Homo sapiens: one gene and its partners. The protein of the gene in region 3 purifies or fractionates together with the protein of the main gene of each other region. This does not show direct contact. Each region holds a gene or a part of one and is shown on either strand. Other genes may lie near its edges.

What was found.
Region 1: the proteins of SNTB2 (region 3) and CTNNAL1 purify together in Homo sapiens (affinity purification with mass spectrometry; 2 studies listed by BioGRID and IntAct, with this or other methods). This does not show direct contact.
Region 2: the proteins of SNTB2 (region 3) and DTNA purify together in Homo sapiens (affinity purification with mass spectrometry; 2 studies listed by BioGRID and IntAct, with this or other methods). This does not show direct contact.

Annotation. Positions count from the first base shown.
Region 1 is NC_000009.12:109,010,399-109,018,144, forward strand, and holds the start of CTNNAL1 (alpha-catulin), read right to left. Parts: upstream 3,102-7,746; 5' UTR 3,045-3,101; coding exon 2,904-3,044; intron 1-2,903. UniProt on the Homo sapiens protein: May modulate the Rho pathway signaling by providing a scaffold for the Lbc Rho guanine nucleotide exchange factor (ARHGEF1).
Region 2 is NC_000018.10:34,874,204-34,881,312, reverse strand, and holds part of DTNA (dystrobrevin alpha), read right to left. Parts: intron 6,075-7,109; coding exon 5,915-6,074; intron 3,595-5,914; coding exon 3,505-3,594; intron 1,763-3,504; coding exon 1,594-1,762; intron 1-1,593. UniProt on the Homo sapiens protein: May be involved in the formation and stability of synapses as well as being involved in the clustering of nicotinic acetylcholine receptors.
Region 3 is NC_000016.10:69,239,148-69,246,256, reverse strand, and holds part of SNTB2 (beta-2-syntrophin), read right to left. Parts: intron 656-7,109; coding exon 442-655; intron 1-441. UniProt on the Homo sapiens protein: Adapter protein that binds to and probably organizes the subcellular localization of a variety of membrane proteins. May link various receptors to the actin cytoskeleton and the dystrophin glycoprotein complex.

The DNA of each region.
Region 1 (7,746 bases), on a different chromosome or scaffold from region 3:
ACACTGGCTAGAATTTCCAGTGCAGTGCTGAGTAGAAGCATAGCAGGCACCCCACTCTGGTTTCTGGCTTTAAAGGAAATGTTTATTTTAAATTTGACTGTTGCTATGATGTTAAGTAAAAGTTTTCTGTAGATACTCTATCAGGTTAAGGACACTTTTTCCTAACACTAGTTCCCTAAGTGCTTCTTATCATTATTAGAAGCTGAATTTAGTTGAATGCTTTTTCTGCATCATTGTTAGGAAAATACATCTTTTATAATCTGTGAATGCAAAAAAAACTATACACATTTTTCTAATATTGATAAAATCTTGCATTCTTAGAATAAGGCCAGTAACCCAGGACTTTTCACTTGGAGAGTCAGAAGAAGCTAGATGATACCAGAATAGAAACTGTCTACTTTAAACCGTATAGTGCCAGTCCTACTTGTTTACCTCAAAACCCTGCCTCCTCCATGACATCACTGCTGACTCATCCATGCCTTCTCTGAGCTTTTAGAGTATGTACCATTGATGATGTTCATTTGACACTTTGCATGTGCTGTTCTATACATGACCTATCTACCAACTAGAATATAAGCCCCTCAAAAAACAGCAACAAATAAGCACACAATAAATCCTTGCTTAAAATGCTTAAAATATCCTTGTGGATGAGATGGTGAAACATGAGTTGGGTAATAATACAGCATTCTCAGAAAATGAGACTTGTGGACATATGAGTTTTCTGGAGAACTGCTGTTTTAATCTCCTAACACTGAAACTTTAAAATCATTCTAAATTGTACTTCCCTGCTTTGTTAACCGAGTATTCTGGCCATGCTTAATACACTTCTTGATTTTAACTTTTTCTTGTTAAGGACAGTCAATTATGAGGAATATCAGTTATGGTGTTGTGGTAGAGATGTAGCTGTAGATACACAATGTGTGGGATGCAAAACCTCAGCTGTGACCCTGAACAAGGCTTTAACTGGAAAAAGAAAAAAAAAAAAAGGCAGGCATTCTTCCCCTTTGGCATTGACCTCTAACTCTCAGCAGTGATTTATACTTTTCTTCCTCTGCTCTCCTACCCTTCTCTGGCTTCTTTTACCCCAGAGTTACACAATGCAGAGCTGTAAGACTGATACATTTTTAGCAGTGGATACTGTGAAAAGTTGCCATTTCTCCAGATTATGACTTTCTAGCTTGTTTTTCCACTATGTACCATCTTTTTCTCTAGATCTCATTACTGCTTCTAATCTCTAGAGAGGACACAGCATAGTGTAGCAAAGAGAACCTTCTGGAGCCAGGGTACCTGGATTCAAATCCCAGTTTGGCACTTATTGAAAGCCCTAACAACAAATTATTTAACCTCAGTATTCCTCAGTTTCCTCTCCCATACCACGAGAATATATACCAACTTCACATGATTGTTATGAGAATTAATGAGTTAATATTTACAAAGTGCTTAGAACCTGGCCTACCACATAGTAAGCATTACATAGGTGTTATTTAAAAAATGGATAAAATACTATCAACTTGAACTCCATCACTCTCTTATCTCTCTGCCTCTTAAAACTGCTCCAGTGTTTCTCGTTTTGGTTGTGTTGTGCTAGTGGAGATAGGCGAGGAGCGGAGGGTCTGACATTACTGAGGGATCCCAGTGCCCCTTCCCACTGGTCAGAGCCTCAATGAGACACAGGAAAAGGGAAGGAGAGTGTCAGATATATTCATCACTGCTCCGTTAGCCATGCGAAGGTGAAGAAAATAGGGATGTTTATTTAACCAGCATAACAGGAATCCAGGGACATGTGTAACTGCTGTTTTCAAATATGCGCAGGGCTGGGCAGGAGAAGAGATAATAGCATTTAGAATTCTATGCAACAGCTACAGGCTCCCCTTCACTGAACATGTTTAAGCAGGGTACTGGTGGCCAGGTGTCAAGGATGCTAAAGAAAGAATTTTTAGTCAGATAATCTTTAAGATTTCTTCTACCTCTAAAATCTTGGTAATCCTAGTATGAGTCACGAAGTGGTTACAACCTAGATGTGAGTCACACATCGCCAACGCGCTCCCGAAGGCACAGAATTCACTCCCCACAGTGCTTGGCATCTTACCACAGACCTAAGTGAGGAATTCTAGCCCTGAAGCTGCATATAACCCAGCTCAGAGAAACAAAAACTTTCCTAAAACTCAGGGCGTCGGTTAGCTGATTGGCAAATACAGTAACGCACACATCCCAAACGGGACTTGGCAAAACGGTGTGCATCTGGATTAACTGTCATACAGTCTCCACGTCACTCTTCCACGAGGCCGGACAGAAGCGGGCAGAAGTGAGCAGCAGCAGGTTCAGGGGAAGGGGTAGGGTGGCCGGGATGAATGGGAGGCCAGCGAACTGACCTACGGCGGGGAGGGACAAAGGATCAGGGAGCGCACGCTGGGCGGGGAGGCCGGGAGGAATACCCCAGGCGGAGGAGCCGGGCTCGGGACCAGGCTGCGAACTGGTGACAAAGTCGGTTATCGTGGAGGGCCCTAAGTACCAGCGAGGGGCCCCGCGGGGGTCCTCTCTGCCTCGGGAGCTGGGCTCAACCACTCGCCCCGCGGAGGGGGCATCGCCCGGCCGGGGGCACCCGGGAGCCGCAGACCCGAGGCAGGTACTGGGGGCAAAGGCCCAGGCCGGCACCCCCGCCCCGCAGCCTCCCCTGCTGCCGAGTCCACTCAACCCTGCCGCCGGAGTTTGGATTATCCAGTCTCTCGCCGCCCGGGCCGAGGCCCGTCCCGGAGCCCCACACAGGCGGTCCGACAAGAACGCCGCAGTGCCGGCGCGGAAAGTGGGGCAGCGGCTGCCTCCCGTCCGGTCGTGCGAGCGGCGGCCGCCATCGCGGGCCGCGGCGGGAAGGAGAAGAGGGGCCGCGCCAGGCGCCACTTTACCTGAGAAACCAGCGGGAGTAGCGTCTGCTCCACCGAGCGAGTTTTGATCTCCAGTCCCGAGTCGAGGGCGAAGCCCGAAGAGCCGGAGCCGTAGACTGCTCCGGCGCCGCCAACGCCGGCGGGTCCGGGAGAGGCGGCCATGGCCCTCGGTCTATCCCGCAGCCGGGACTCCGCGCCGCGGCGAGCCTGCCGCCAGTCAGCCCACCCGCCCGAGGCGGCGGCGACAGGACACTCGCGCCAACCGAGACCCCGCCCCCAGGGGCCCGCCCCCCCAGGGCTCCGCCGCCAACCCTGCGTCCCCGACGCCCGTCACCGTATGTCCCCGCCCACCCCCGGCCTCTGCCCCGCCCGCGCAGTCCAGCCTGGTGTGGGCTCCCTGCAACCCCACCCCCTAAGCCGGGTCCCGCCCCCACATGGCCCCGCCCTTATCTCTTCTCAGACCCCTTCCATGGGTTCCAGGCACCTTCTCGCCAGGGTGGCGAGGAGAAACAAAACACATCTGTCACACAGCCACATGGCCTCCTCTTACTTGGACAGACAAGCGTCCCCAGCAAAGCTTCCCGTCCTCTCGATAGGTGACTCGTCCTAAATCAGCTCTGAATTCCCGCAAAGACTTCTGGAAGCTGTGCTGGGGTTGAAACTGGTAGACCAAAACCAGAATCAAGTCTGTTGGGAGGGGCCTTTCCCCTGGGACGGGAATTCCAGTGGTAATGTCTTCCTGGGGCTTCTCCGGAAGGTCCAATTTCCACTCCACCCTGCTCATTCTTTCACCATGTATTTCTCACAAACACTTTGAGCTGGATTGAAGGGGAAACATTTGATAATGCAATCATTAATGGAGTATCTGGGTATTCGGCAGGAAGTCAGTATATCTTTCACACTACTGTTTAGACTTATTCAAAAGAAATTTAAAAGAAACATGAAAAAGCCTCATCTACTGTTCAACACTACTTCTTAAAACTATTTTTCGAAGTTTTTTCCTAGTGCCAGGCACAGAGCAGTTTCTTCATAACTGTTCATTGCATGAAAACACCAAGTGTGTATTTCTGACAACTCACTTGAGGGGAAGGGTAAGAATCAGTTCTGTAAGCACAACTCTGAGCTCGCACAGAGCCCCACGATGGGGGCGGGGAGCTGAAGACTCCTATTCTAAGGTCTCCAGGAGCAAGGCCAAAAGGAGGTTGTCAGCAGTATGCACGCCGTGAAGGAATTCCAGACTTAAGCAACAGACTGAGAAGCATGAAAAAATGTTTTGTCAACTACCATATCTGCCAGTGAGAACCTGTCAGAGTAAAAAAGAATCTGAGGCTGGCCAGTCCACCCGGACACCTTGGCCTGGATCATTTCTTCTTCCATAACACCAGATTGATGAGCTGGGTACATCAACCTGAGGCATAAGAAAGCTCTTTCCCAAGCACCGTTGAAAGGCGCTTCACAGTGCTTCAACCTGTAGCTTCAGCTTCATCAATCTACCAGTGCTGCACAGCTGTCTTTGGTATTGAAGATAGCCAAGCTTCAGCTTCTTTTTCTTCATTCAAAAAGGACAGGTCCTCAATCCAACTTTTTCTTCCAATTCTTCTCAGCCAACCATCTCACCACTTCCTTACCTATCACAAGGCCACCTTCCCCTGTGCACTGAGGGCCCTTGACCTCTTTAAGGCGCCCAGTGTCCACTTCCTGGACACACCTTCCCTTACGAAGTTGACAGTATCTCCTAAGAATTCAGTGTACACAATGGTGCCGGAGGAAATGGCATAACAGAAGGCCTAAGAGACGGATGGATTCATGAAACTTTGGCTTCACAAAAGATCAAGTTTTTCAACACACAGGAGATTAAGTTTACCACATGATTCATTCAACACTAGTAATTTTATTTCAAAATATAAATATTTCACATTAATAAAGAAGTTACATCAGTAGGTTGTCAAAGCAAGTTAGCTAAGAAACAGCATTTGTGTGAGAACAGAGGGTATTTATTGTATTCGAATATTCTTTTTTACTTTTGAATTGCCTCCTTCACCTGAGAACCCAGGGATGATACATTTTCAAAGAGTTATGTAAGCAATTACAACTCTATATCAAATCTTAGTTCAAAATCAAATTGTACTGGAAATACACTTCAGTTACCTAAATAAGTGGCACTGCAAAGGGCAAAGAAGGGTTTTCTTTGGGATGGCTACAATGAGAGTTACATCTGCTGGGTCTCTGCAATAAAAAATAAATGATATTTGATAATAAGCCAAAATTATCAGGATTTGCTTCCATACTTTTCACTGTAAAATAAAAAGCTAGCAAAAAGCTAGTAAGAAACCAGATGTCTAGTAAAGAACTCTGGACTTGGAGTCAGAAGTTCTGCAACTAAATTCTGGCTCCATCATTTTGTGGTATAAACTTAGGGGAATATCACCAAAAACTTTTCAGAGCCTCCAGAGCCCCCCCATCTGTACAATAAGGATAATATTGTCTGTCTCACAGGGCTGTTACAAAAGGTGTCTGAAAACTATAAAGTGCCATACAAAAGCATTATTAAAATGTAATATCAATATATCACCACTGTATTTGCACATTAGTTGATCCTTGAAAAACCTGCAAAATTAAACACAATACTGATTTTACACACCACAGGTGGAAAAGAATCTCTATACCTTAAGTATAGCTCTAAACAGCAAATATACTTGCTTTCTGGACTTCAAGATTTATTACACACTACATGGTACCACAGTAATAGATCTGCCATTCAGTATTTCCATTAGGGATGTCTTCTCAAAGAGTTGTAAACTTGATCAAGGGCCATGTTTCTCAAAGGACCCTGTAGTCCTTTGAGATGCTCTGAGGAATAAAGAAGGGGAGTGCAGTCTAAGGTCAAACAGTGTTTGTCCCCTTTTATAAATTCACAATGTGTAATAGCATGTTCAAAACTCTTAGAAGTCCTACAGTAAGGAAACAAACTCAGCATTCCTTCATTTTAATTGACCATGCAATCCCCCACCCCCAACACACACACACTTTTTTTCTTACATCTATTAACATCTCTTGGAACTACTGCTATATGGAACACATTTTGCCAAAAGCTGCTCAACCATGAAGAAAAGGAAAGAGAAGTAGAACAACGGACTGACAGAAAAAAAAGAACTCTATTCTATTCTGAATTCTGTTACTAACTGGCTGTATGTGTATGTCAGACAAGCCACTTAAACCTATGAATTTGGGTCTTTCTCTAGAAAGTGACAGGACCACCTAATTTTAGAAGTCCCATTCTAGCACAGAATTTCTGACTCTAGTAGACAGAACAACTTGATTTATAATTCTCTTAAACTATCAAAAATAACCAAACAGTGGCTGCAGACAGCATGTGTGTTTTTTTTTTTTTTTTTTTTTGCAGGTTCCCAATAATCGGTAAGTTAATAAAATGAATATATTTTGATGGCAGAATGTTGAAAGACAAGAAACTAATAAAAAGTACTTGTTTTTAGCTGGAACTAGCATTTGGAAGTAATGCTAGCCAGAGGCTATTTCCACTGTGAAATGCACACTCAAAGTCCTATTGTAATATTATTTTAAGGGTCTTAGGAGGCCCCTCAGAGGAGACTGCAAGGTCAGGGCTAGAGTATGAGAAGTCCTAAGGGTTTTTGTATTTTGTTTTTTTTTCCTATAAACCCTGAGGTTGAAAGCTCTGGATAGCTCACCTAAATTACTTTCCTCTAATCTAACCCCTCACAGCCTGAATTTCTGAGTATTGCTTGACCAGTAGTGACACATTCCTGAGGCACTAATATAACCCAAATGGAAACTACAGGTCCTAGGAAATCCAGATAGGTCACAATGGGTTCATGTGAAGATCAAGGTGAGCCAGAAGATCTCATCTGCAAGCCATTTAGCAGCCCTTTAACTGTAAAAAGCAGTTCCACTTTCAAAGGCTACAGAGTTTGTTTACATACAAGGTCTCCATGTAACATGTTGGATTTCTTCCCACTGTCATGGGCCAACCCACACTAGACTCAGAAGTCAAGGGAAAGCTCTGCCAGCTAAACACTTCTTATCAAAGAGGGTGTGAAGAAACCTTGCAATTTTAACAATAACTAAGACCAGCATGTAAGGTGGTCTTACAGAGATCACTTGCAGGAACAGATATTGATAGGAACTTCAGAACTCAAACAGCACTCACATAACATGGAATTTATGCTGAAAATCCCATGCCTTCTCTCTCAGAAAAGAGAGGAGCATACCTGTGTGGAGAGCTTGTATTTTCTCCCCTCCCATCCATTCGGTTTACAACTGAATAGCGAATGTGAACTTGAAACTAATCTTTAATAAATCTATAAAATGCAAGATATTATGACCAAGTTCTGTACTCCGTTTTTACTGAAATGACTTCTACTTCATCAACGTACGGTCTGTTCCTGAAGAAACTTCCTCTTTCTGGGTCAAATTCTGACTGAGAATGTAAAGGTAGGTTATCTTTGAGACTTGAGCTTAAAACTCCTACCTTTTCATACCACTTGATCTCTGTTGCCCTGTGAAAATTCTGTAAACCTTCCTCATTGCATCTGAGGAATCATGCTGGAATGCTTCTTTCTGGCTCGGAGGGTTCCAAGACCTCCCCAGCTAGTGGACCTTCCTAGTCCTTATGCCGTTGCTGTAGCAATGGGGCAGGTCAAGTTTCCTGATCATAGCTGTGAAGCACTCTGGGGCACCTCTGCTCCTGGTATTTCAGGGTGATATTACATCACTGCTGCTAATTTTGGTAGCTCTAAAGTATTCTCTTAAAGACCTCTAAGAACCTGATATTTATGCTAATAATTACCCAGCAAGAAACATTAGCTGTAGTTTTTTGCAATATCAC
Region 2 (7,109 bases), on a different chromosome or scaffold from region 3:
ACTCACTACCTAAATCATAGGACTAAAAGAGTCTCAGGGTAAAACACAAGTACATGTTTAGACAATAGAAATATTAAATTATTCCCTAAAATGAAATAAGTGGTCAAGAAGAAGTTTCTAGGTTGGAACTTAAATGTCGTTGTTTGCGTTTATTTATAGCTGTACAACATGTTCTGGTTATTTTTGGAGGTTTGGGGCCAGGCTAAATGGGTCTGCCCAGGACTCTGTTAACTTTCCTTCCCTAACTCCTGAGTCACATGTTGGTAGCTGGTACTGCTACTCAGCATACCAGGGCTAGCAGATTAGGGTGGCCTCAATAGTCTTGGATTTTAGAATTAGGACAAGGAAATTCTAGCTAACTGCCATATAAATGCTTAATAATAAAAAGTCAAATAGATATGAATTTACCAGACAAAACAGATGACAACTAATTCACCATTTTGAATAACAAATCCAACAATTCTAGAATACAGAAGAAAGGACAAGAAAGCAAACTATATTAAGCAGCAGCGTACTGCCATGTTAAGTCCCATGATAATGGTTTTGTTTTGATCCTACTCTCTGCTGCTTCATAGCTGACTCTCAGACCACACCTCTTGATAATTCTCCATGATTACTGATTGTTTATTCACTGCTTGGATGGAGAGCCAAACACCAGAAAGGCCTCTGTTTAGTTTCTTCTCTGAGTCTTTAAAATGGCCAGTTTATTTTTATAGACTAGTCTGAAGTACTTTTCATATTAAGCAACATCACCCTTCTGAAGTATTTTTAGCATTCAGAAACTCCCTCCCCCAGCTTTTGGGTCAGCCTTTGCCCACATTTCCCATAACTCCATGAACCATGGTCATTTAATGGGCCACTTTCTTCATTTCTTTTGTTTTTCTCCTTTTTCTCCCAAGTTGGGCTCTGCAGCTCTGTCCCAGCTTTGCCTTTGTTTCTCAGCTTTGGTTTTCTCTGTTGACTAATTTGAGCTGATCCAGGGTCACAGAAAGTCTAGTGGGGACGTTACTGATGCTGCTGGTTTCTGACAAGCTCCAGAACTGGGTGAAAACTTTTGCAAATAAGTCTTTGGAGGGTCAGATTCATACAAATTCAACAAGTCAACCAAACTGGATTTCTTTATAATGAGATTTTATACATGTACTTATTTCAATTCCAAATACTTATGTGATGTTGTTTACACCAATTCTGGACAGAGACCTCTCCAATGTCATGGTATCCTCTAAGTGCAAATACAATAAGTTCAGAAGATAGGATGATTTATCTCCTGAACTAGTCTGTGAGTCCTAAAAGGGTGGCAGCAGTTTTTTAATACTATTTTGTATAGCACTAGCAATGTGCCTTGGGCAAGGCAGGCTCTTGATAGGCACTGGTTGGTTTAGGTTATTGATAACTCTCTGGAAATTGTAAGAGGGGAAATATTACAATGCCGAATTTAAATGTAGCACCCTTCTATATCTCTGGCAGAACAGAAAACTATGTCACCCCTTCTGAAGGTTAAAAAAACCCTAAACAATTATGCTTTTACTTTCTTATTGTCTCCTACAGATTGTTTTGTTACTGAGAAAATGCTTCCAAGCGGAAGATACTCACATGTCGCCACGCATGGTACTTGTGGTAGCTCCACTGTGAATGTACCCAGGTTTTCGGGCATGGATTTGCGCTAGAAAAGCCTTTTCAGAGGTTGGTGAGGGAACAAGATCCTCAAACTGAGTCCGTGCAAATTCAGAATCCACATTACTCTCTGTTTCACTCCCAACCTCTAGCAGATACAATTGAAGAAATAAAGAATGACTCGTTAGATTTTTTTATGACCTGCAAATAAAGGAGTAGGCTTCACAAATCAACCTGTGCTGTGTAAAATGTTAACCAGTTATCATATTTTAATCAAATACATTTTTATTGTTTCAAAATAAGAATTGATATTGACATGAATTACTATAAAATCATTTGGTATACAGCATTTTTAAAATCTCAGAAATGTTATGAGGAATTTTTGCCATCTTAGTAACTGACTTAACTCTTTAAGACTTCTACTTTTTCCTTTCTGTAAGAGACTTAACTAAAATTGTTACTTTTGCTTAATATTACACTAATTTAAGAACTATGAGTTAAAACCTAATCCTAACCATAAAATATTCACCTAAAATGCTTAAAATATGAACTTAAAATATTAAGTGAACCCTATCACTTAATACTTTAAAGAATTATGAGTATAAACTAACAGTACTTAAGACTTCTACACCAAGAATAACTTTGTACTCATCATTTGCTAGGGCAGTGGTTACCTGCCATTAATCATGATGTATTAACTACTATCTTTTTATTCCGTTTGGTAATCTTAATCTAAATTAGCAGCAACAATTTTCAATTGAGAGGCTTTAAGAAAGCGAAGTCCAGGATTTTTTTAAAACTGAAGTTTTATTTCTTATAGTTGCAATCTCAGCTGTAAGACCATAGTCTTGCCAGACAAATCTCTTGGTAGGTCGGCCTTAAGGAATAGATGGAGATGTATTAGTGACTGGTAAGATATTTATTTGCATATTCATACTGCTAAAGTTTTGAACACTCTTTGTAGTATTAAAAGGATAAAAAGTCTCCTTAAATTTTATGCTATTTATTTCTGGGCAGATCTATCTTCAGAGACATTGCAAAGGTAAATTTCAGTTTGAAATTCAAATTTAAATGATCAGGCATTCCAAATTAATGAAACCTAAATAGATAAGGGCTGGGAATCCCAGCACTTCGGGAGGCTGAAGCAGGAGGACTGTTTGAGCCCAGGAGTTCAAGACCAGCCTGGGGAAAAAAGGCAAGACCCCATCTCAAAAAAAGATAAATAATACACTTGACCCTATAAAATAACCTTAGCATCATGTTGTTTTAGGTCACCATAGATGTTAACAGTGGCTGTCTTTGGATTCCAGAATTATAGGTCAGTTTGAATATTTTTCGTTGTTCTTCTCTGCCTTTTTCAAACTTTCTACATTGAGTATGTGTTAATAGTCTTTTAATAAGCAAAATATAAACATTACTTAAAAAATCTGAATAGGCCAGGCATAGTGGCTCACACACTTTGGGAGGCCGAGGCAGGAGGATCACTTGAGGCCAGGAGTTTGAGACCAGCCTAGGCAACATAGCAAAGACTCTGTCTCTATGAAAACAACAACAAAAAATTAGCCAGGCGTGCTGGCATGTGCCTGTAGTCTCAGCTACTAGGGAGGCTGAGGTAGGGGGATCACTTGAGCCCAAGTGTTTGACATACCAGTGAGCTATGATGGTGCCACTGTACTTCAGCCGGGCAACACAGAGACACCCTGTCTCAAAAAACCAAAAACAAACAAACAAAAAAAAAACCCCTCAAATCTGAATAGACCAACAAAATATCACATAGAGCTTTAAAGAATCTTTTGATATTAGACAATAAGCAGATCTCTAAGAGAGACCCCTAGCACTTATGGATCCCTCCATGATGAGCAGACAAATGAGAGGGAATCAGGAACTCACCAGAATTCAGCTCTTTCACAAGAGAGGACATAGTGTTAGTGATGGAATCTGCAGCCACTAGCAAGTCATTCCTTAAGTTTCTTCTTGAACCTTCAGGGAAGAAGAAATAATTTAAAAAACCAAAGCTTCCTTCTATCCTAAATTTTTATGTTGTTTATTTATCCTTCCCATTAATAACCTAAAGCAAGAAAACTTCTAAGACTTCTCCTTTTCAGAAGTGCTTTAGTTCATTTCCTGAAACAAGAACAACAACAACAACAAAACACTGCTTAGGGCAGTGGGTCCTGCAGTAAGAAGACATGGCTAATGATGGAGTTTCATATATTATTTGTCCATATGGGGACAATTTTGAAGGTGAAAGAGAGCAGTATGAATAAGGCTGGCTGACCTGGCAAAACTGGGATGGTTCCAGGTAAACCAGTGCGTGTGGTCACCCTTCTTAAGAATAATCCACACAGATGAAAAATCAGGTTTTCCAGGAGAGCTGCGCCTTCCTAGCTGCTATTATTTTTCTTGCCCTTACCTGGTGGCTGAGCCCTTTAGATTCTGGTCTCTACTAGGACATGCGCTGTCTCCTATCAGGGCTCTTGGAGCTCTTCCTGCCAGTGTAAGTACCACTTGGGAATGGGAAACCCACATGCACTGAATGCCCCCAGAGCGTGAGAAAGGGGTGAGGATTCTTGTTTCTTCTGCCAAGACATGGGCAGATGCATGTCTGGTACTATAAATTGGAACTTAGACTATGTTTCTTTATGGCAGAGAAAGATTATTATTTTGTTTCAGGCACACTAAGGGTTAATGGAATTTCATTCCGTCATTTTTCAGAAAGTAATACTAACTAAATAAAATAATAAATGTTTAAATTAAAAAAATCAGAGTAGTTAAGTAAAAACATTAATTATAATGGAAATCACAAATTGATTTAAAATATAGTACATTTCTTTAAAATATGATTAAGAGAAGGGATATTTTCTTTCTAAAAATTAAAAGTTATTTTGTGAATTACATTTTTAAAAACTCTTGAGTTATATTCAGTGCCTAGAAGAAAAAGTTCTAATATAGATCCTTCCTTTTCCCTCAGAGTAGAGAGTTCATCATTCTCTCTCATTGAAGTGTGTTAAGATTTTATCACCCCTCTACATGGACGAGAGTACCTTTTTCCTCGCACTTTTGCTATCCCTGGATATTATGATGTTTCAAAACATTTTTTTAATCTTCTAGGCAAAAAGTGATACTTATTAAAATTTATATTTCTGTAATTAGAGGTTGAACATCTTTTCATATATTTATTGGCAATTTCTCTTTGTTCTTCTGTCTATTCGTATATTTCACCTGTTTTTGTTTTGGTGGTGTCTATTCTTTCTGATCTCTACATGATTTTTGTATAACTGAAATTATGAAACTTGATTGACACATATACTGGAAATGGTTTCCTCAAGACTGTTTTCTGTCTTTTAACTTTGTTTATGATCTCTTTTGCCTTAAAACCCATATTCAAACATGTCTCTCTTTTCCTTAGATCTCTATGTGAAGACTTCGAAGAATGTTAATGATATATTGCTAATTTAAAGAAAATGCAAATTGCAGACCCCAAAATGCAATGCATGATCCTATTTGTGTGAAAAAAAGAGTATGTGTCTATAATCACATCCTTAAACATATCTATTTACACAAAAGCAAAACTTTGGGAAGGATCAAACTGTTAATAGTGGTTACTTCTGGGAATGAAAGCTGCCGGTGAAGGTCTACAGAATGATTTTTTTATTATTATTCTCTATAAATTTAAAAAGTGATAGTAAGAAGAGGTTTTAAAAAGTGTTAAAAATATTTCTAAATTAATAAAGTTACTCTCCCTGTCATGGGAAAGTGCTGGCTGGCATCCCCATCCCTCTTTGTACTCCTCTAACTGCAGAGGCTTAACCCTGTAGCCCTGCCTTACAGAGGCAATGATTCAACTCTTCGGGGCATCAGAACAGGGAATCTGTCAAATGACTAAATGTCCTTCTTGGTTACCTCATTGCTAAAGAGCTGTGATTACTTATCTCAGTCTTGACTTTAATATAAAGAAAAGACAATATGAGATAAGAAAATCTCTAAGAATTAAAAAAAATAGATTACATTTATGAAGTTTTCTGGGGGTATTGGTGAAAAGATTTCCTGTCTTTTGATGAACAAAGACTTACTAAAAAATAAGGCAGGGCAACAAAAGCCAAAGGAAGGTAAAATCGTGAAGTGAGAACAAATTGGTGTAGGGAGTTCCCAAAATGGCTGGCAGGCCAGGCTCTGACACCAGCCATGAAAGACCCTACAATAGTCACATGTGGTTCTGACAACTCTTGACCACTCAATAGACCTTGGTGACCTATTTGCCACATAAAAGCAGACCACAACAAAAAATAAAGCCACTTACTTTGTGCAAATGCCTCTTGTACATCTCCCCCTACTCCTGTGAGGGAGTCCTGCGGCGTGTGCGTCGGGGTGGAGCAGGCTGACGCTGACCGGATGGGCATGGGAATTGGCCTGCTGATGGTGTGGCTGGGGGAGGAGCGGGGAGAGCCTGCCCCCTGAGTCTGGAGAGACAATGCAGGTCATTAATTTGCTTTCCCAAGAAAATGTCATATGTCATCCCCAATGCCTCAGTTGATTGTTGAAAACAGTGACAATGAAATTTCAAAGCAGGAGGAAATCCTAGGTAATTGTGTTGGTAATCCTAAAGCTAATTTGCAGGTGCAGATAATTTAGGACCTTATTGTATGTAATCTGAAGTTTGGGTTAAATATTGAAAGCTAAAACTATTAGTACAGCATTGCTCTACAGTATATGGGACATGTGCCCATAAAATGAAGGTACTGTTAAATGCAGATAATTACAAGGTGTGGATACTTTCTCCTTGAAGGAAGGTCTCCGAGGACTAAGAAGACATTAAGGAGAAAGTTTAAAATACAAACTAGAAGACTATTTGCAATGGATGCTTTCTGAATTTTCAACCTGACTGTACTAGCATTATCTTTAGAGGATAAGAGTTTAAATCATGTCATACAATATTGTGCATATTAAGTCTCAAATTAAGAATCAAATGAAGTGTAAATTGTTTTATCCCTATTTTATAGTAAAAGCTGATTTTGTCAAATTAGTAACTCAGGGATTCCAATGGGGAAGAAGAAGAAGAAGAAACCTTGTTTTCTAATTTTTTGGTATTATTTCCTGCAGGAAATGTCCTTCTCTTCTCCTATGAAAAAGCAGTATTCTAGCAGGACAATAAGAATAGTAGGATTTAAAGACAAGTAAAGAAAAAAGTAGAAAACAACTGAAGGAACTTATCTTTGCACTACAGTTTTTGGCATGAAACTATTCTGAGACTGTCACACTTTGAATCTTAAGGATTTGTCTCTAAATGAGGTGCCTTGGAAATATTCTCCCTGTTTTAATAATTAGTTGACAAAAGAAGTCAGCCACATGCGTAAGAAAATGCAAGGAGACCCTTGAGTGCATACACAACAGATTAGGTGTTCACATCAATTCCATCCCAGTCTGTTTGCTGTGGTTGCTAGAGTGAGAATTCTTCTCCAGCAAGGCCCAGAGAGTCATCATTAACCCATTCAAAC
Region 3 (7,109 bases):
TCTCAATAAATTAGGTATTGATGGGATGTATTTCAAAATAATAAGAGCTATCTATGACAAACCCACAGCCAATATCATACTGAATGGACTTCTTTCAATTATAAAGTAATACATATTCATAGTGAAAAAAGTAATAACAACATTACAGAAAGACATAAAAGGAAGAAAAGATGCCCCCTCTTTCTTTCACCCCTTTAGTCTTATTTGACACCCTAGAGGTAAAGCCATTAACAGTTTCTTGTGTGTCTGTTCAAAATTTTTTCTACACATATACATGTATATATGTAGAATAACTTAAAATGTGGAACCCCAAAAATGCATCTCTCACCTCAGACAGATGTTTTCCTCTGTATAACTGAGTTAACAGAGTCATATAATACTGCAACATGTCCTTAAGTTTGTAAAGCTGTAGGTATGATGTTCTTGTTAGGTACACCTCACCTGTTTTCCAGATCCGGCATGCTTAGGTTTCTAGCAGCAAAGCACATTTTGAGAGGGATGATCTTCCTGTCCTTGGTGCTGTTCTGGTGTTTTGGCGAACCAGAGTCCTCACTGCCACTAAAGCTTGGTGACTGGGGGGCTGCACCTTCCCACGGCAGATCTGATACTAATGATGGCTTCTTGATATATGGTGTTACTTCTCGGATGAACTTGACTATGAACAAAAAAATCAAAGAAGAAGGTTAGTAATTTTGCTTCCTATAATAAATGATAACTAAAGTATTCACATACATGCTATATCTATAACAAAGTGGAGGAAAGAGCTGGGCGCGGTGGCTCACTCCTGTAATCCCAGCACTTTGGGAGGCCGAGGCGGGTGGATCACTTGAGGTCAGGAGTTCAAGGCCAGCCTGGTCAACGTAGTGAAACCCCATCTCTACCAAAAATACAAAAAATTAGGTGAGCGTGGTGGCATGCGCCTGTAGTCCCAACTACTCAGGAAGCTGAGGCAGGAGAATTGCTTGAACCCGGGAGGCGGTGGCTGCAGTGAGATTGTGCCACTGCACTCCAGCCTGGGCGACAGAGCAAGACTCTGCCTCAAAAACAAACAAACAAACAAACAAACAAAAAATGGGGGAAAAAAGTAAGTTAAAGAGCCATGAATCCCCTGGAGATAGATTCTAAGACAGACCCATCTAGGCTTTAGATGATTCAACCTTTAGAAACTTCTCCATACTTCTACCCACTGGTTCCCTGTCTTCTCAAGCCATATAGAACAAACTTAATCTCTCTTCTACATGAGAACTCTGTAATTATCTGAAGACAGATTTTTCTCTTCTCTCTCCTCCCCATACTAAGCTAAGTATTTCTATTTCCATTCAACTCAATCAACTTTTATTAGCTACCTACCAAGTGTTGGGAATTAGGCTAGCCAGTAAAGACACAAGGGCAAATGAGCCATGGATTCTATCCCTCAAGGAATGCCCAGCCTTGCAGGGGAGACAGCTATGTAAACAGGCCATTACAGTTCTTAAAATCAAGTGCAAAAATAAAGTATATTCAAGATAAGGTATGATCTAATAAGCACAAAGCCAACTCAACTGATCCCCCTTGCTTGTTCAAAATACTCTATTTCCATTAATGTGGCCCCAAATGAAAATCAAGCTTTTAGTAGATAGGAAGCTTTTTTAAGTTCAAATTTAAAACTCATAAAATACTTGTTTTACTTCAGTCATGACTACAATTACTGTCACTCGAGGCATGGTGTTCTTGTTTCAAAAACTAGACAAACTGGCTGGGCACAGTGGTACACACAGTTTCTCCTGTGAATAGGTAATACATGCACATAAAACAAAACTCAAGAGGTATAAAAGGTTTTATAATAAAAGTCCAGATTTCTAGCTACCCTGTCTCCATTCCTAGAGGCAACCATTCAAAGAGATGCCTGGTATGCTAAGCATGTATGAAAATAAACACATACACATGCGTGTATATCTGATCATACATATGGTGGTACATTATGCTTACCGTGCTGCACCTTAGTTTTTTTATTTAATAAGGTTGATAGTCTTTTATAGGCCTAATAGTTGATAGCTCATTCTACAGCATGATGTGGTCATAGAGATGCCTTTGGAATCAAGAAGACCTTGTTCAAATCCTAACTGTGCTTGCTATTCAAAGCTATGTGACCGCACTTAACTGTTCTGAGGTCCTCATCTACAAAATGGGAGTAACACTAAGCAAATAAAAATTTCAGGCACATACTAAACATTCAATAAATACAGTAGGTACCTTTCTTTTTCCTTCCCTAAATTAGAAAGTTAGAGAAGAGTTAAAAAATTTTAATGGTAATCAGTAGAAGAGTTAAAGTTATTTTCTTATACGTTATTAAAAAAGATTTACTGAAATTAAGTATAATAATAAAAAATATAACAATTCCAATGCTAGAATTTAGATGTAGTATATCTCTGTGCTTTTTGTGCATAGTTATAATACACGTGCTTCTGGGTAGCTGCCTCAGGTCACCAAGGAGATTTTTTTACCCTAGAAAAATCAGCAGGAGTGCAGTCAGTATAACCCTTGAGCAGCTGACTCAAGCATTTCAATACATACTTCAGCTTTATGCTTTGAAGGACTTTGGCAGAAATTCCTAAGGTTTCCAGTTACTGCAAATGGCAGAGGCATGCTTTTTGAACATTTAAGGCAGTACACTATTGGGCTACCAACTGGAGGAAATTAAAGACATTCTAAATGAATTCTTGAATAATATAGTGGTTAGAAAAGAACCCTTAACGATCTACTCAGTTCATTCAATCACACAGTAGCATCACTGAACTGATTACTACACACATCCTAAAACAAAAACAGACATACACATACAATTTATGTATTGCCTTATTAAAAGAGCAATGAATTTTATCTGAGTTGATGGCAATGCAGTCCATACCCCCATCTAATTAGCCATCCAGAATGGCTGAAGAGCTGTGGATGGACATCTGTTTCTATGTTTGGGAATGGCAAAAAGTTAACAGTCTTCTGTTTCAGTCCTATGTTAAGGCCTTAACCTGGACACGTGGCTGGATAAGCAGAGCCTTTACACCCCCACATGGAGCTTTCAGTTCAACTCAGAATCCACAACATATTTCAGAATCATTTCATTTTTCCTGATAGTTGAAGATAATCCTCAAAATAATTTAATTAAACACTGATGTTTACAAACTGTTTTGAGTGTTCAGATGCTGAAGCTAATTTTCTTTCTTCCATTCATGTATCCCTTTTTTTTTTTTTTTTTTTTTAAGATGCAGTCTCACTCTGTCGCCCAGGCTGGAGTGCAGTGGCACAATCTCAGCTCACTGCAAACTCTGCCTCCTGGGTTCACGCCATTCTCCTGCCTTAGCCTCCCCAGTAACTGGGACTACAGGCGCCCGCCACCACGCCCGGCTAATTTTTTGTATTTTTAGTAGAGACGGGGTTTCACCGTGCTAGCCAGGATGGTCTCGATCTCCAGACCTCGTGATCCACCCGCCTTGGCCTCCCAAAGTGCTGGGATAACAGGCTTGAGCCACTATGCCCGGCCTCACGTATCCCTTTTACTGAACGTGAAGGTGGGCTTCCTCCCACCCCAAAAGCATTACTGTGATCCCTTCTCTTCTTTAGAGTGACAAAAACACATACATGTACTGCACACATGTACCTGTAAAGATGTCTGGAAGGAACTTAATCAAAATATCAATAGTGCTTATATACAGGTGTAGGATTGCATTTTTTTCTTTATGTTGTTCTGTATATTTAAAATTTTTGTTAAGTCCATAGTATTTATTTTAAAAACGTATTTAAGAAATGAAGAAAACTTATTCTGAGACCTTGTTCAAACTCTATCTTAATTTTATTTTTGAGACAGGGTCTCACTCTGTCCCTCAGGTTGCAGGGCAGTGGCACAATCATAGCTCACTGTAACCTCAAATTCTTGGGTTCAAGTGATCCTGCCTCAGCCTCCTGAGTAGCTGCAACTATAGGCACACACCGACACATCTGGCTAACTTTTTAATTTTTTGTAGAGACAAGGTCTTGCTATTTTGCCCAGGCTGATCTCAAACTCCTGGCTTCAAGCAACCCTCCCGCCTTAGCCTCTCAAAGCGTTGGGATTACAAGCATGAGCCACCACCCAGCCTGTTGCTCAAACTTTAAACATGAAAGACATGTAAACGGAAATCTTGAGGCTTCAAAAACTATAATGCACTGGATAGGATCCAAAATCCAACTGATTCTTACTGAATTCTAAGCTCTAATGAATAAGGTTATGAAGAGTTCCATGTTTGGGGCATGAGGCAGCATCTGATTTTAAACTGAATGCAAGTGGCTTCTTTTTTTTTTTTTTTTTTTTTTTTGAGACAAGGTCTGGCTCTATCACCCAGGTTGAAGTGCAGTGGCATGATCTCAGCTCACTGCAACCTCCGCCTCCTGGGCTCAAACCATCCTCCCATCTTAGCCTCCTGAGTGGCTGAGACTACAGGTGCACACCACCATACCCACCTAATTTTTGTACTTTTAGTAGAGACAGGGTTTTGCCATTTGCCCAGGCTGGTCTCTAATTGGTGAGCTCAAACAATCCACCCGCCTTGGCCTCCCAAAGGGCTGGGATTATAGGTATGAGCCACTGCACCCCACCTGTTAAGTGGCTTTTTTTTTTTTAGTAGAGACGGGGTTTCACCATGTTGGCCAGACTGCTTGCCAACTCCTGACCTCAAGTGATCTGCCCACCTCGGAGTCTCCCAAAGTGCTGGGATTACAGGCTTGAGCCACCACGCCCACCCTGGCTTTTTAAAGCTTATCTAGGCTGGTGCTGAGCATGGTGGCTCACACCTGTAATCCCAGCACTTTGGGAGGCCGAGGTGGGTGGATCACGAGGTCAGGAGTTCAAGACCAGTCTGGCCAAGATGGTGAAACCCCATCTCTACTAAAAAATATAAAAATTTGCCGGGTGCGGTGGCAGGCACCTGTAATCCCAGCTACTGGGGAGGCTGAGGCAGGAGAATTGCTTGAACCCAGGTGGCAGAGGTTGCAGTGAGCTGAGATTGTGCCACTGCACTCCAGCCTGGGCTAGAAAGTGAGGCTCCATCACAAAAAAAAAAAAAAAAAAAAAAAAAAGCTTATCCAGGCCGGGCACGGTGGCTCATACCTGTAATCCCAGCACTTTGGGAGGCCAAGGCGAGTGGATCACTTGAGGTCAGGAGTTCAAGACCAGCCTGGCCAACATGGCGAAAGTCCATCTCTACTAAAAATACAAAATTAGCCAGGTGTGGTGGCGGGCACCTGTAATCCCAGCTACTTAGGAGGCTGAGGCAGGAGAACTGCTTGAACCCGGGAGGCAGAGGTTACAGTGAGCCAAGGTCATGCTATTGCACTCCAGCCTGGACAACAAGAGCAAAACTCCATCTCAAACAAACAAACAAATAAACAAAACGAAACGAAACAAAAACCTTATCCAAAAAGGATACATAATAGGGCAGACACAGCCTACGGCTGCAAACACACATATTTGGATAAATGGATCAACCTCTTTTATAAACATCAACTTCTCATATAATCGTTATGTTCCTTTTTATCTCTAACTCTTACCTTTTCCATGCCCCAACTGGTGATCTTTACTATGAGTTTAAGTGAAACTAAGTTAGTCACACAACATTATTTCCCCTGCTTTTGCAAGCAAGTTTGTTCCTGGATTATTCTCAGAGTGGAATATCTGGCTGTGCATTTTGCACAGGAATGAGTTATGTTGACAGTCACTGTTAAAGTATTCTCTCAGGAGGATTCTCTCCAACCTCATCCCAAGCTCTTCTCTCAAGTCAGGAGGCTGATAAATGACCACCAAAAACACGAGGAAGGAATTGCTTTGCTTTGAGTAAAAAGCCTTTTACATTCTCAACTTGCAGGTGTCTTTCAGCTCAAGTCTCCTGGCCATTTGGGGTTTGAGTAGACTGCAGTCTAGAGTCTGGTGACATGAACCTTGAATGAGTTCAGAGTGACTCTTTCACTCTTCCTCTTCATTCTAAAATAACATAGCAAATTCACTAATTTATTGAGCTCCTACTATATACCAGGAACTGTTTTAGGCATGTAGAATTATTAGCCAGTGAATAAAATATGCAAAAAATAATAATGTAATTAATAATTTAATGAAATTCTAGAGAAATGAAAACTTACATTCACACAAAAGCCTGTACACTAATGTTCTTAGCAGCTCTATTCGTAAGTACCACAGCTGGAAACAACCCAAATTTCCTTCAATGGAAGTGAATGGATAAACTGTGATACAGCTATAGAATAGAACACTATTCAGAAATAAAAAGGAACAAACTATTTATAACTCAGTAACTTGGATGAATCTGAAAGGCATTATACCAGTCTCAAAAGTTGTATGACCCCATTATTGAAAAGAAAAAAATATATGATGAAAAATTCAGTGGTTTCTAGCCAGGCGTCGTGGCTCATGCCTGTAATCCCAGCACTTTGAGAGGCTAAAGTGAGCAGATCACTTGAGGTTAGGAGTTCAAGACCAGCCTGGCCAACATGGTGAAACCCCACCTCTGCTAAAAAAACAAAAATTAGCCAGGCATAGTGGTGCACGCCTGTAAGCCCAGCTACTCAGGAGGCTGAGGCAGGAGGCTTGAACCCAGGAGGCAGAGGTTGCAGTGAGCTGAGATTGCGCCACTGCACTCCAGCCTGGGCAACAGAGCGAGACCCTGCCTTGACTAAATAAATAAATAAATAAATAAATAAAAATAAATTCAGTGGTTTCTAAGGGTTAGGGGTGAGAAGGGATATGATTATAAAGGGATAGCACAACAGAGTTTTCTGAAACCATGGAATGGTCCTGTATCCTGATTGTGGTGACAGTTACAAGAATTTATGTATGTGTCCAGATTCATAGAACTGTATACCTTAAGGGGAAAAAATTCAATTGTACAGTATGATAATTACAAAATAAAATAAGTAAATTATACAGTATATTGGAAGATGTTAAGTGTAATGGGAAAATGAAACACAGCAAGGGAAGGGGTCAGAAATGCTGCCCAGGGTGTCAGTTTGTAAATTTTAAATATGGTAGTTAGGGTAAGCCATTAATAAGATGTTTGAACAAAGACTTTAGGAGATGGGGGAGTTGGCCA